3 linked regions of the Homo sapiens genome follow. The protein of the gene in region 2 interacts with the protein of the main gene of each other region in a biochemical or structural test. Each region holds a gene or a part of one and is shown on either strand. Other genes may lie near its edges.

Evidence for each region.
Region 1: the proteins of HNF4A (region 2) and SREBF2 form a complex in vitro, tested with the Homo sapiens proteins (2 studies listed by BioGRID and IntAct).
Region 3: the proteins of HNF4A (region 2) and NCOA6 form a complex in vitro, tested with the Homo sapiens proteins (2 studies listed by BioGRID).

What each region holds. Positions count from the first base shown.
Region 1 is NC_000022.11:41,836,012-41,839,762, forward strand, and holds part of SREBF2 (sterol regulatory element-binding protein 2), read left to right. Parts: intron 1-3,751.
Region 2 is NC_000020.11:44,353,612-44,357,362, forward strand, and holds the start of HNF4A (hepatocyte nuclear factor 4-alpha), read left to right. Parts: upstream 1-2,087; 5' UTR 2,088-2,193; coding exon 2,194-2,242; intron 2,243-3,132; exon of another isoform or gene 3,133-3,751. UniProt on the Homo sapiens protein: Transcriptional regulator which controls the expression of hepatic genes during the transition of endodermal cells to hepatic progenitor cells, facilitating the recruitment of RNA pol II to the promoters of target genes. Activates the transcription of CYP2C38.
Region 3 is NC_000020.11:34,742,023-34,745,773, forward strand, and holds part of NCOA6 (nuclear receptor coactivator 6), read right to left. Parts: intron 1,320-3,751; coding exon 1-1,319. UniProt on the Homo sapiens protein: Nuclear receptor coactivator that directly binds nuclear receptors and stimulates the transcriptional activities in a hormone-dependent fashion. Coactivates expression in an agonist- and AF2-dependent manner.

The sequences.
Region 1 (3,751 bases), on a different chromosome or scaffold from region 2:
CCCTCTGGAAACTACCACAGTGGTTCAGTGGCTTCATAGGTCCATTAGGTTTGATCCCAGTGGAAGAAGATTCCATTTCTCTGTCCTTCCAGAAGACCTGGTTTATAACAGTGCATAAGGCTTTTTCTCAAAATAGTTATATACCGCACAAGGAAGAGGTGTGGCTGTTGTGTCACAGGAGACCTAGGGGCCAGGTTTGGGAAAAGTGGTTCCATGTCTTCAGTTGATCAACAAGTATTCAAGTGCTGGCTGTGGTTTCTGAGCTGTAAGGAATCGTGAAAGATAGCATAGAATTTTATGGCTTCATGGAGCTTGAGATGAGAAACTCTAGTGCCAGTATGGAACAGCTTAAAATTGCACAGCACAACAAGTAAAAGTCAGCAGTGAGGGTAGCTTGGTAAAGGCTGGCTTAGCAGGAAGACCACACCAAAGAGGTGGCTCTTGACCTGGGCCTTGGAGGACAAAAAGAGTTGGGCATGCTGAAGGTCAGTGGTCTGAAGATAAAATTATCCCTTGATTCTCACCCCTGTGTTCCCATTACTGAATGTTAGCTCCTTGAGGCAGAGACCTTCGTTTCATTCCCACTAAATTCTTTGAACCTAGAACAGTGCCTGGCACAGTGAGAGTGCCCATTAAATATTTGTGGAATGCCTGAGTGATCCAGTGATCTTGGGCTGGGCAGGATACTAATTGTCTTGGACATGGTTTGGAGTTGGATTAGATCAAGGAAATAGCCAGCCTGGATGCTTCTAGGAGCCGGTCAGGTGAGGAAGGGGAGAGGCAGGCAGGGTGAGTACATTTACTTCCTTTGTATGTGTATGGTGGGGATAAGGGGTGGATGCAACCTAGAGAGCCTCCAGGAGGTGCAGGCAGGCAAGGATCCATTCATTCCACAATGTCTGCTGTGTTCCAGTCCATTGGTACCCTTCAAGGATATGGGCTCAGGGAGGCCACATTCATTTACTCATTGAATGGCTTCTAAGTATTCATGATGGACAAAGGATAACTTGAGCGCGACAGATCATGTGTCTTCTCTCTCACGAAGCTTACATTCTTGATGGAGGAAATACAAGTTGAGTAAAATAAATGAACAGTTTAGGCAGGGCACTGTGAGCAAAATAAAATTGGGCCATATTATAGAGTGTGACTGGGCTAGCCTACTTAGATTCGGAAGTCCAGGGAGGCTTCTTGGAAGAGAGGTATCAGTGTCTGTTTTTCAAGAGATGCCGAAGTCTGGATTTTTATTTGAAATACCCAGATTTTTGGCCGGGCACAGTGGCTCATGCCTGTAATCCCAGCACTTTGGGAGGCCGAGGTGGGCGGATCACCTGAGGTCAGGAGTTCAAGACCAGCCTAGCCAATATGGTGAAACCCCATCTCTACTAAAAATACAAAAATTAGCCGGGCATGGTGGTACACGCCTATAGTCCCAGCAACCCAGGAGGCAGAGACAGGAGAATCACTTGAACCTGGGAGGCAGAGGTTGCAGTAAGCTGAGATCATGCCACTGCACTCCAGCCTAGGCAACAGAATGAGACTCTGTCTAAAAAAAAAAAAAAAAAAAATGCTGGACACGGTGGCTCACACCTATAATCCCAGCACTTTGGGAGGCCGAGGCGGGTGGATCACCTGAGGTTGGGAGTTTGAGACCAGCCTGACCAACATGGAGAAACCCCGTCTCTACTAAAAATACAAAATTAGCCGGGCGTCGTGGCACATGCCTGTAATCCCAGCTACTCAGGAGGCTAAGGCAGGAGAATTGCTTGAACCCGGGAGGCAGAGGTTGCAGTGAGCCGAGATCGCGCCATTGCACTCCAGCCTGGGCAACAAGAGCAAGACTCTGTCTCAAAAAAAAAAAAAAAAAGAAAGAAAGAAAGAAATACCCAGATTTTTATATGTTGGCTCATTTAAAAAAAAAGTACTATAGGCACCCAATAAAGCATGTGTGCTAGTTGATCTCTGGGGTCTTGTACTACTGCAGAACGTCCTGTTGTCCCAGGCCCCCAGGTTTCCCATAATAGAGTAAGTCTACCATTTCATTTTGTGTTATATATCTCTATTTTGAGAAAGGGCCTCATGTGCCATTACACACCAGGTCTTCTGGAAGGGCAGCAAGGTGGGATCCTCTTCCACTGGGATCAGGAAAGAAACAGTCATGGAGGTGACCTTTTTGCTGGGTCCAAATAGATGGGTGGCAGGAGCAGCCTGACAAGTATGTGGGAGGAGTTAGAACAAGCTGCCTTTGGAAATGAAAGTTTACTAGAGATTTCTTGGAATATAGTGTGTGTGAGGAAACAGTAGAAGATGAGGTCTGAGAGGTGAGGTGGAGCTAAATTGTACTGTAGATGCAAGGTGTTTTATGGAAGATAGGGAATTGTTGAAGATTTTCAAGTAGGGGGTGACATATTAATCATGGGTTTTTAAGAAAATTGAATTGTGGGCTGGGCTCAGTGGCTCATGCCTGTAATCCTAGCATTTTGGTAGGCCGAGGAGGGTGGATCACCCGAGGTCAGGAGTTCGAGACCAGCTTGGCCAACATGGTGAAACCCCATTTCTACTAAAGATGCAAAAATTAGCCGGGCATGATGGTGGGCACCTGTAACCCCAGCTACCTGGGAAGCTGAGGCAGGAGAATCGCTTGAACCTGGGAGGCGGAGGTTGCAGTGAACCCAGATTGTGCCACTGTACTCCAGCCTAGGTGACAGAGCAAGACCTTGTCTCAAAAAAATAAAAGAGAAAGAAAAGAAAATTGAACGGTGGTGATAGGCAAGGAAGATTGGAGGCAGGGAGGCCAATTAGGAAACTGTAGCCATCCAGGTGTGAGGTGATGAAGGGTGACAAATTTGGATGGGAAGTGGCCCTCATTCAAATACCTTTCCATGGCACTGACTTGGGCCTCTGCTTGCTTCTCCCTGCAGAAACCCAGTTTGACAGAGTACCCTGCAGTACCTGGCACTGACTAGGTGTTCTGTAAAGGTGTGTCTGATGAGGAAAGGAAAGCACCTCAAGTTCAGTCTGAGTGTTCACACCATTGGGAAGGTTGGAGTGGCCAACTGGGTGAGCAAGGAGTGAGTGTTGGGGATGTGACAGGACATGTCCTCACTGAAGGCTTGTCCCTGAAGGCAGAGCAGAGGGAGAATTCTAAGATCCCATTAAGACTTTGAGCCTGGAGCACTGGGGGAGTTAGGAGTCAGCAGAAAGAGCTGGTTAGGGGAAATGATGAAAATTTATCTTAATTGTGCTGAAATTGGGGTGCCTGGGGGTCATCCATTAGGAAATGAGATGTAGATACTTAGGAGAAGGTAAAACTGGGATGGAGATTGAAGAGAGTCACTGCTGAGTCAAGAGGAGAGAACTGGGAGATTAGAGGTTAGGAAAGTGTTAGCTTTTCAAGGAGTAGTCTGTAGATGGTGGAGACAATGCCACAGAGAACAACAAGGATGACAAGGCCATGCAAGGAGTCGTGGGACTTGGTATTAGGAGGCCAAACCTTGCCAGAACAGTCAGATGAGGGAATCCAAGGCAGAAAGGAAGCAGGGGTGAGTGGGAGATGGGCAGGTGGAAGCAAGTAGTTCTCTTTGGAGAAAGTAGAATAATTTTTTCAATGAGCTGATCTACTTTCTGTCTTGATGAGTTTGCCTGTTCTGGACAACTCATAAATGGAATCAGACAGGTAGCATAATATTGCTTAGGTTCATCATGTTGCAGTGTAGTGTTCCATTGCATGGACACACCGCATTCTGTTTTATCT
Region 2 (3,751 bases):
AATGTGAGACCTGTTGAAATAGCACGGGCTTTGGGGTCAGATGATGCTGAATTCCAGTTCTGTGTTGGCTCCTTCGTAGTTATGTGACCTCATGACGCCACTTCATGCAGGGGGTTACGTACCACTTAAATCTCCAGAACATTTTGGGAAATTGACATAGGGTTAGCAAACCTCCCCCACCCCCATATAAAAATATTAATACTTTTTTTTTTTCTGAGATGGAGTCTGGCTCTGTCGCCAAGGCTGCAGTGCAGTAGTGCAATCTTGGCTCACTGCAACATTTGCCTCCTAGGTTGAAACGATTCTCCTCCTTCAGCCTCCCGAGTAGCTGAGATTACAGGTGCTCGCTGCCACACCCAGCTAATTTTTGTATTTTTAGTAGAGATGGGATTACACCGTGTTGGCCAGCCTGGTCTCAAACTCCTGACCTCAAGTGATCCACCTGCCTCAGCCTCCCAAACTGCTGGGATTACAGGCATGAGCCACTACACCCGACCAAGAATATTAATACTTTTTTTTAAAAAATATCGAAGTTATTTATTTATTTATTTATTTATTTATTTATTTATTTATTTTGAGATGGAGTCTCTCTCTGTTGCCCAGGCTGGAGTGCAGTGGCACGATCTTGGCTCACTGCAACCTCTGTCCCCCTGGTTCAAACGATTCTCTTGCCTCAGCCTCCCGTTTGCCACCATGCCCGGCTAATTTTTTTATTTTTGGTAGAGACGGGGTTTCACCATGTTGGTCAGGCTGGCCTCAAACTCCTGACCTCGTGATCGGTGCGCCTCGGCCTCCCAAAATGCTGGGGTTACAGGCGTGAGCCACTGCACCCGGCCCCAAAATCTAACGTTTGTTATCACTGTTGTTTTAGAAAAGAAAGGACATTTTAATGCAACCCATGCCCATCTGTAGGGGCTGAAGGTCCCTCTGAGGTGATTGATAAAGCTGAAAAAAGAGACTATGGGAAGAGAAGAGGAATATTATCAATTAGCTATTTTAGAAGCAGGGCAAACTATGAGCTAGGTATTCCTATAAGGAAATGAAATAATTTACTAAAAAACATACAGCAAGAAAATAATAGAGCTGGAGTTTTCTGATTTTTCTGAGTCCAGAATTTGTTTCACTGTTCTCATTTCAGCTCTCTCTAACAGGATGAATGACCTTGATTTCAGAATCCCCAAGCAGGTGGTGAGATCCAAAACTGAGACAAAAGAAACGGGGCTGTTCCAAAAAAAAAGCTAGGTGGCAGGTGTCTAACATGCCAGGGAGCTAAAACAGAGTGTGTGAGTTTCAGCAGCAGGTTGAATTTAGAATGGGGAAGGAGACCAGAGGAGACGCCAGACAGGATGACTTTGTCCCATTGGCCTGGAGGCAGCCCCATGTTTCTCCACCCCTCATATCACTCACCAGTTTGTAATAGTATCTTTGAATGACGATCTGATTAAGGTCCGTCTCCTCCATTAGTCCACAAGTTTCGGGGGTACATCTACTTTGCTCATTTCCATATCCCCAGAGTCTAGCACAAGGCCTGGTACATAGTAGGTGCTCAATAAATATGTTAGATGAAAGGAAGATAACACCTCTATGTACTAGCAGTGAGACTCCAGGCATGCAATTTCTCTCTGTCCTTCAGTCCCTTCATCTCAAGGTTTAATTTAAATATGGTAACGCCTGTATGCAACTCCCAGCATCCAGTAGGCACTCACTAAACACAGTTCTCCACCCTCCTTTTTTCCTCTGCCCCTCCCTCGGTTTTCCCACTACTTCCTGCATGGTGACACACCCATAGTTTGGAGCCATAAAACCCAACCCAGGTTGGACTCTCACCTCTCCAGCCCCTTCTGCTCCGGCCCTGTCCTCAAATTGGGGGGCTGATGTCCCCATACACCTGGCTCTGGGTTCCCCTAACCCCAGAGTGCAGGACTAGGACCCGAGTGGACCTCAGGTCTGGCCAGGTCGCCATTGCCATGGAGACAGCAACAGTCCCCAGCCGCGGGTTCCCTAAGTGACTGGTTACTCTTTAACGTATCCACCCACCTTGGGTGATTAGAAGAATCAATAAGATAACCGGGCGGTGGCAGCTGGCCGCACTCACCGCCTTCCTGGTGGACGGGCTCCTGGTGGCTGTGCTGCTGCTGTGAGCGGGCCCCTGCTCCTCCATGCCCCCAGCTCTCCGGCTGGGTGGGCTTGGCCATGGTCAGCGTGAACGCGCCCCTCGGGGCTCCAGTGGAGAGTTCTTACGGTAAGTGGGGCTGGGGGAAGACTGGACAGGGCGGGACTGCGGTCAGCTTTGGGAGGCCATGGGACACCTCCCCGTGTGTTTCTTACGGGCCCAAAGCTCCTCCTGGAGCTCCTCTGGAAGGGCAGGAAGCCCCACGGAGGCAATGTGACCGCTTCCCTAAGCTCTCAAGCCGGGGCATGGCCTGCTTGGTGCGAGAAGTGCTGGGAGGGGCCGAGAAGCCCTGGGGCAGAGGCTTGGCTCATTTTGTCTGTCCAGAGGCCTTCCTGGGAATGCATCTCAGGGGTCTTTCCAAAACCCCACAGAGGGTGGGGCTTGGAAGCACCGTCCTGTTTCGATGCGGGGCAAATTGAGGTCCACCAGGAGAGGCTTGCTGGGCCTAGGTCACGTTGCTGGTGCATTATCAAGCTGGGCGTGGGACCGGGCAGCTCGGTCGCTCCGCACCTCCGTTGGCTCTGGATAATGGGGAGGAGGTAGAAAGCGCCGCGCAGGGTGGAGCGTTGGAAAATGAGAATATCTTGTGCGGACGTGTGAAACTCAGATGCAGGGCTAGAAAGCATGTGTTACTGAGAGTGAAAGGCTCAGGCTCACTCCTTAGGGTGACCCCCACATTGGAAGCAACCCAATGTCCCTCAGCAGAGGGAAGACGGGTAAATAAAGCGTGAGACGTCTTTACAGTGGAATGCTATCCCATTGTTCAAGGAAACAACGCACATCTGTGTGTGACAGGGAAGAACCTCTCAGTTAAATTAAGTGAAAACGGTACACTGAAGAACTGTGTAGTTGCTGATAGCGAAACGGATATAGATGTATATATGTACACACGCGTATACGTGTACATTCCACGCATAGAAAATTCGTGGAATGACACAATAAAATTGGTGACAGGTTTGTTTCTGAGGAGGGAAATTCAAGAGAATGTTTTATCTTTTGGGGACACATTTTGGATTTTTTAAAAGTTGGGTGCCTTTTATAAACCTGTTCAAATCACACACCCGCACAGAACTTGGTCTCTGGAATCCAGCAGACCTCGGGGTCTAGTTGTGACTCTGTCACACGGCTCAACATTCACGTGCCTCTTGCTTTCTTTCTGAAGTGGAGACAGGACTAGGATGTGTCTTAAGATCATGGTGGATGCCGTGGGGAACAAGGATGTAAAGCCCTTGATACCACGTGCATTGCAAAGACACAATCAACATTTATGTCATCAATTGCTGAGGACAGAGGGCCAGGGAATGACAGAATCAGGGCCTGATCTCCTGACTCTAGTCAGGAAGAATCTTCTTTGCTTTGACCCCCATCAAACAGGAATATGTGATGCACTGGAAATGGCAGAGGCTGAAGAAACCAACAGCCTGGGAACCCATCCCACACACCAGCTGTGTGACCTTGGGCAAGACATTTCCCCTCTCTGAACCTATTTCCTCATCTGTAAAATGAAGATAACAACAGGACCTATCTCCCAGAGAGCGGGGAGATTAGAGGAGATAGCATAGAGGAGATTAAGGGTGA
Region 3 (3,751 bases), 9.6 Mb from region 2:
AACACCCCCAACTGCAGCCACAGACACAGTAGAATTCTGAGGATTCAGCCCACTGTTGTTAGGAAAGCTCCCAGGTACAGGGGGATTGGCCAGAGGAGTGGGACTGACCAATACATTTCTCGGCAACTCCACATTCTGCAATAGGGCTGCATTTGTCTGAGAGGCCAGAGTAAGTTTAGGGGCTTTTGAATTTTGCCTCCCAGGGCTTGGAGTGGTTTTCCTACTGGACCCAGGACTAGACCTGCGACTGTTGCTTGGACTTGCCCGTTTTGTTGCTCCAGAATTAGACTGCTTTCCAGAATTCACTACCACAGAATCTAATTTGTGAGTTTGTGGGGTAGCAAAATTGGAAGGATTCATGGTAAGATTTGAAGGTGCTTGCCCGATGGCCTTCAAAGTTGTTGGATTTAGGCCTTGTTGATCAAAGCCCCTGTTTAAATTTGGCCTAGGAGGTAAAGGAATATTAATCTGTGGAGGGAAGAGTCCTGCTATGGAGGCATTGAGTCTTTCTGGTGACAGACTGATTTCTGAAGGTTCTGTGCTGGGAGGGCGGTTGTTGGGTGTCTGAGGATAATAGGGTCTGGGGCTGGCTCTGTTTGGTGTTTTGGGCCTAGATGTCTGGGTTGGCGCAGCCACATTTGGGAAGTGGTGGCCGTGAGAGCTGGGCAGGGAATTTACAGGGGGTTGCTGGGGAGTTGCACCTTGAGTTGCTGAAAGGGGCGATGGTCCAGGTTTTGGCCCTGTCATCATTAACTGATTCTGGGGAAGTACTACATGTGAAGGCATGTTGTTTGGGCCTCCTGGGACAGATGGTGCTTCACTGCCACTTGCTTCAGGGAGTGAGGCCATCTCCGCCAGTGGCGAGCTGGAAGGATTCTGCGGGCTCTCCTGATAGACCATTTTCCTTGAATTGCTTCCCAAGGGAGTATTCACAGGCATTGGCATTCTTTGTTTATCAGGTGATGGTGGCACGGAGGCAGGTCCTTGCAGACTGACCATGACAGGCACACTGCCACTCTGTTGCATGGGCATTCTCTGGGAGTCGGGGTTCAGGGGGCCCCTTGGAGGATGGACATTTTGAGAGACTGGAAGCCTAACTGATTTGGGATCCTGCTGCATCATGAGCATCATCATCATTTGTTGCTGCTGCTGCTGCTGCTGCTGAGACTGTGGCTGACTGGGAGGTGGTGGCTGCTGCTGCTGAGGCAGTTGTGGCTGTGGCTGCTGCTGTGGTGGCTGTGGTGGGGGTGCCACATGCTGCATGAGTTGAGGAGGCATCTGCTGAAGTGGCCTCTGTTCAACTGGTTGAGAAGGATAACCTAAAACAAGCCCCCCAAATTAGGGAAGTTAGATTTTTCAGCAAGAAAATGTTGCTACCTTTAGAGTATAGCCAAGCAATACTCATCTAGGTGGCACAGACTATGCACAAACAGCTCAGGCATGCCCACTCCTGGGGCAGGGGGCAGCCCCTCATTACTTGACATAAGCAAAAGGGGCACAGTGCTTAAGGAAGCAAAAAGCAAAGCATCAAAAAACCTGGAGCTCCTCGGTGTGTAGGATCTGAATGAGCCATGACTGTACTAAGAGCCTGATTTTCTGTGCTATGCACTGAAAATGGCTGTGTCTATACCAGCCAAACATTCAGATGAAATGAGAAAAACTCCATCAACATCAAGTGCCTGGCCACCCAAGATTCAGGTCTCATGTAGTCATAATCAATATTTCAATGTACTTGTGAATGAAGTAAAGCATTTAGGATTCACTTCTTCTGTTAGCACAGGAATAATTTTTTTAAGATGTGGTTTTGTTGAAAATAACAGCACTGAAGACAGCCTTTTTATTCTTTCAACAGAAGTAAAATATAAAATTCTAGGATTCAGTTCCTTAAGAAAGAGGAATTTAAAATTATTCCAATTCATTGGCTCCATACACTACGCCGCATCCTTCAGGCTTAATCCTTTGGGGGAAACCGACTGAATTAAAATTGCCCTTCAGGTGTAAATCAGTTTAATAAACAGTAGGAGCTAATGGAAGCTGATATACACATTGAAAATAAAATTAGGGCATTGAAGTTTTTATGGATATTAATTTGCACTTACTTTCTTACATGCAAATCTCTATTTGGAGAAATATTTTCCATGAATCCACAGCTGGAGAATAAGTAAGGCAGAAGCATAGCCCTCAGGAATAAAAAATAATTTTGGGAAAAGAACTCTGAAGGACAATGTCTTCTAGATATGCAGAGGGCAACATCTCAAATTATTCTCTTTTTTTGTGAAGATTTTACTTGGCATTTTAGAACCAAAACCTTACAATCAGAAAAGATAAAAAGATACGCAAACCAAGAATAACGGTGGTTCTGTGGGAAAAAGTGGGCATACAGCTGGGCATATATGGGATACAATTCCAGTTCCACAAACTAGATTTATTCCATTGTTGCATGAAGAGTACATTAGGGAGGTTTTAAGAAGGTGTAGGAATAAGAACAACTGGCTCTGGCAGTCAAAAGAAATGCTGACTCAACATTTTCATAGAGCAGCTACCAAATTTTGTGGGTCAGACTCAGCACTCAATTAATGTCTTCTGGCCAAAGATTTCCATGGTATCAATGAATACAATGTGTAGAATCCAGTTTTGAAGATTTTTAAAAAAATCCTTTTTTATTTTAGGCCCGAGTAACTTCTTCACCTTTATAAAGCCAATAACATGGCATTTCTATGGTTCAACTGTCCTTTCGACTACATAGTCAAATACAGTGGGTTCCTATTTTTCACATTCAGTCTGGGGTTCCCACATTAAGAAATTTGTAATTGCTACAAAAGCCTGTTGATGTCAGGGTTATGACATGGATGCCTTTTATCTTTAAAATCAGCCCACCAGACAGTAAATACCAAAGAGGACAGCATAGACAATATAGCAGCCTCTCAAAAGTAACAGTTAAGGGCATGGCTGCTACAGAGTCCAGAAGCTGGAGGCAGCAGTCCAAAAGGCACTAATGATAAGACAGATTGGGGCTGACGTGACAGAATGGTGAAGAGGGAAAGCCAGGACACACATAGTGCCCATAACACAATCACAAACTGAATTTATTACTCAGGGAATGCAAACTCCTATGCCTTTAGGGGCCAGGCAGGTAGTAGAGAATAGAAGTGGACTGGTATAAGACAGCAGGAGTCCTGTCAACAGTGCCAAACTGCAGAGCAGATGCCCTATTTAAAGGCATTTAAACTCGGACTTTTGTTTAAGACACTGCATAGCAACTCAAAACCATTATAGGCCAAATTCAGCCTGCAGGCCCCCAGTTTGCAGAAAGAAGGCAATAAATGTATACAAAGACCCCTGGGATTCTTATAAGAAGAGTTCAGATGTGTCTGAGGCAAGCAGGCATGTTCCTGCTCTCAATGCCTTCTGGACATACTCCCCAAAGACTGATGACCTCCCAGTCTCAGCTATGCTGCTGCATCTCACTGACGGGAAGTGTGATATGCCCAAATAATTTGTAATAAATAACACAAAGTATTGATATCATGATGGATTTAGCTTTTTGTTTGGATTCAATTTTAAAATACATAAATTAGGGGTAGATTAAAGGTTACTCCTAAAATAATGTCGCTCTCATTTTCATGCCAAAAAGAAGTTGAAATAACTAGTGAGGAAGAAACAAAACATACCCTCTGTACACACAGGGGAGAGTGGCCTAAGTGTGAAGGGTTGTGTATCTTCAACCGTGTCATAGGGGAATAAAGTTACA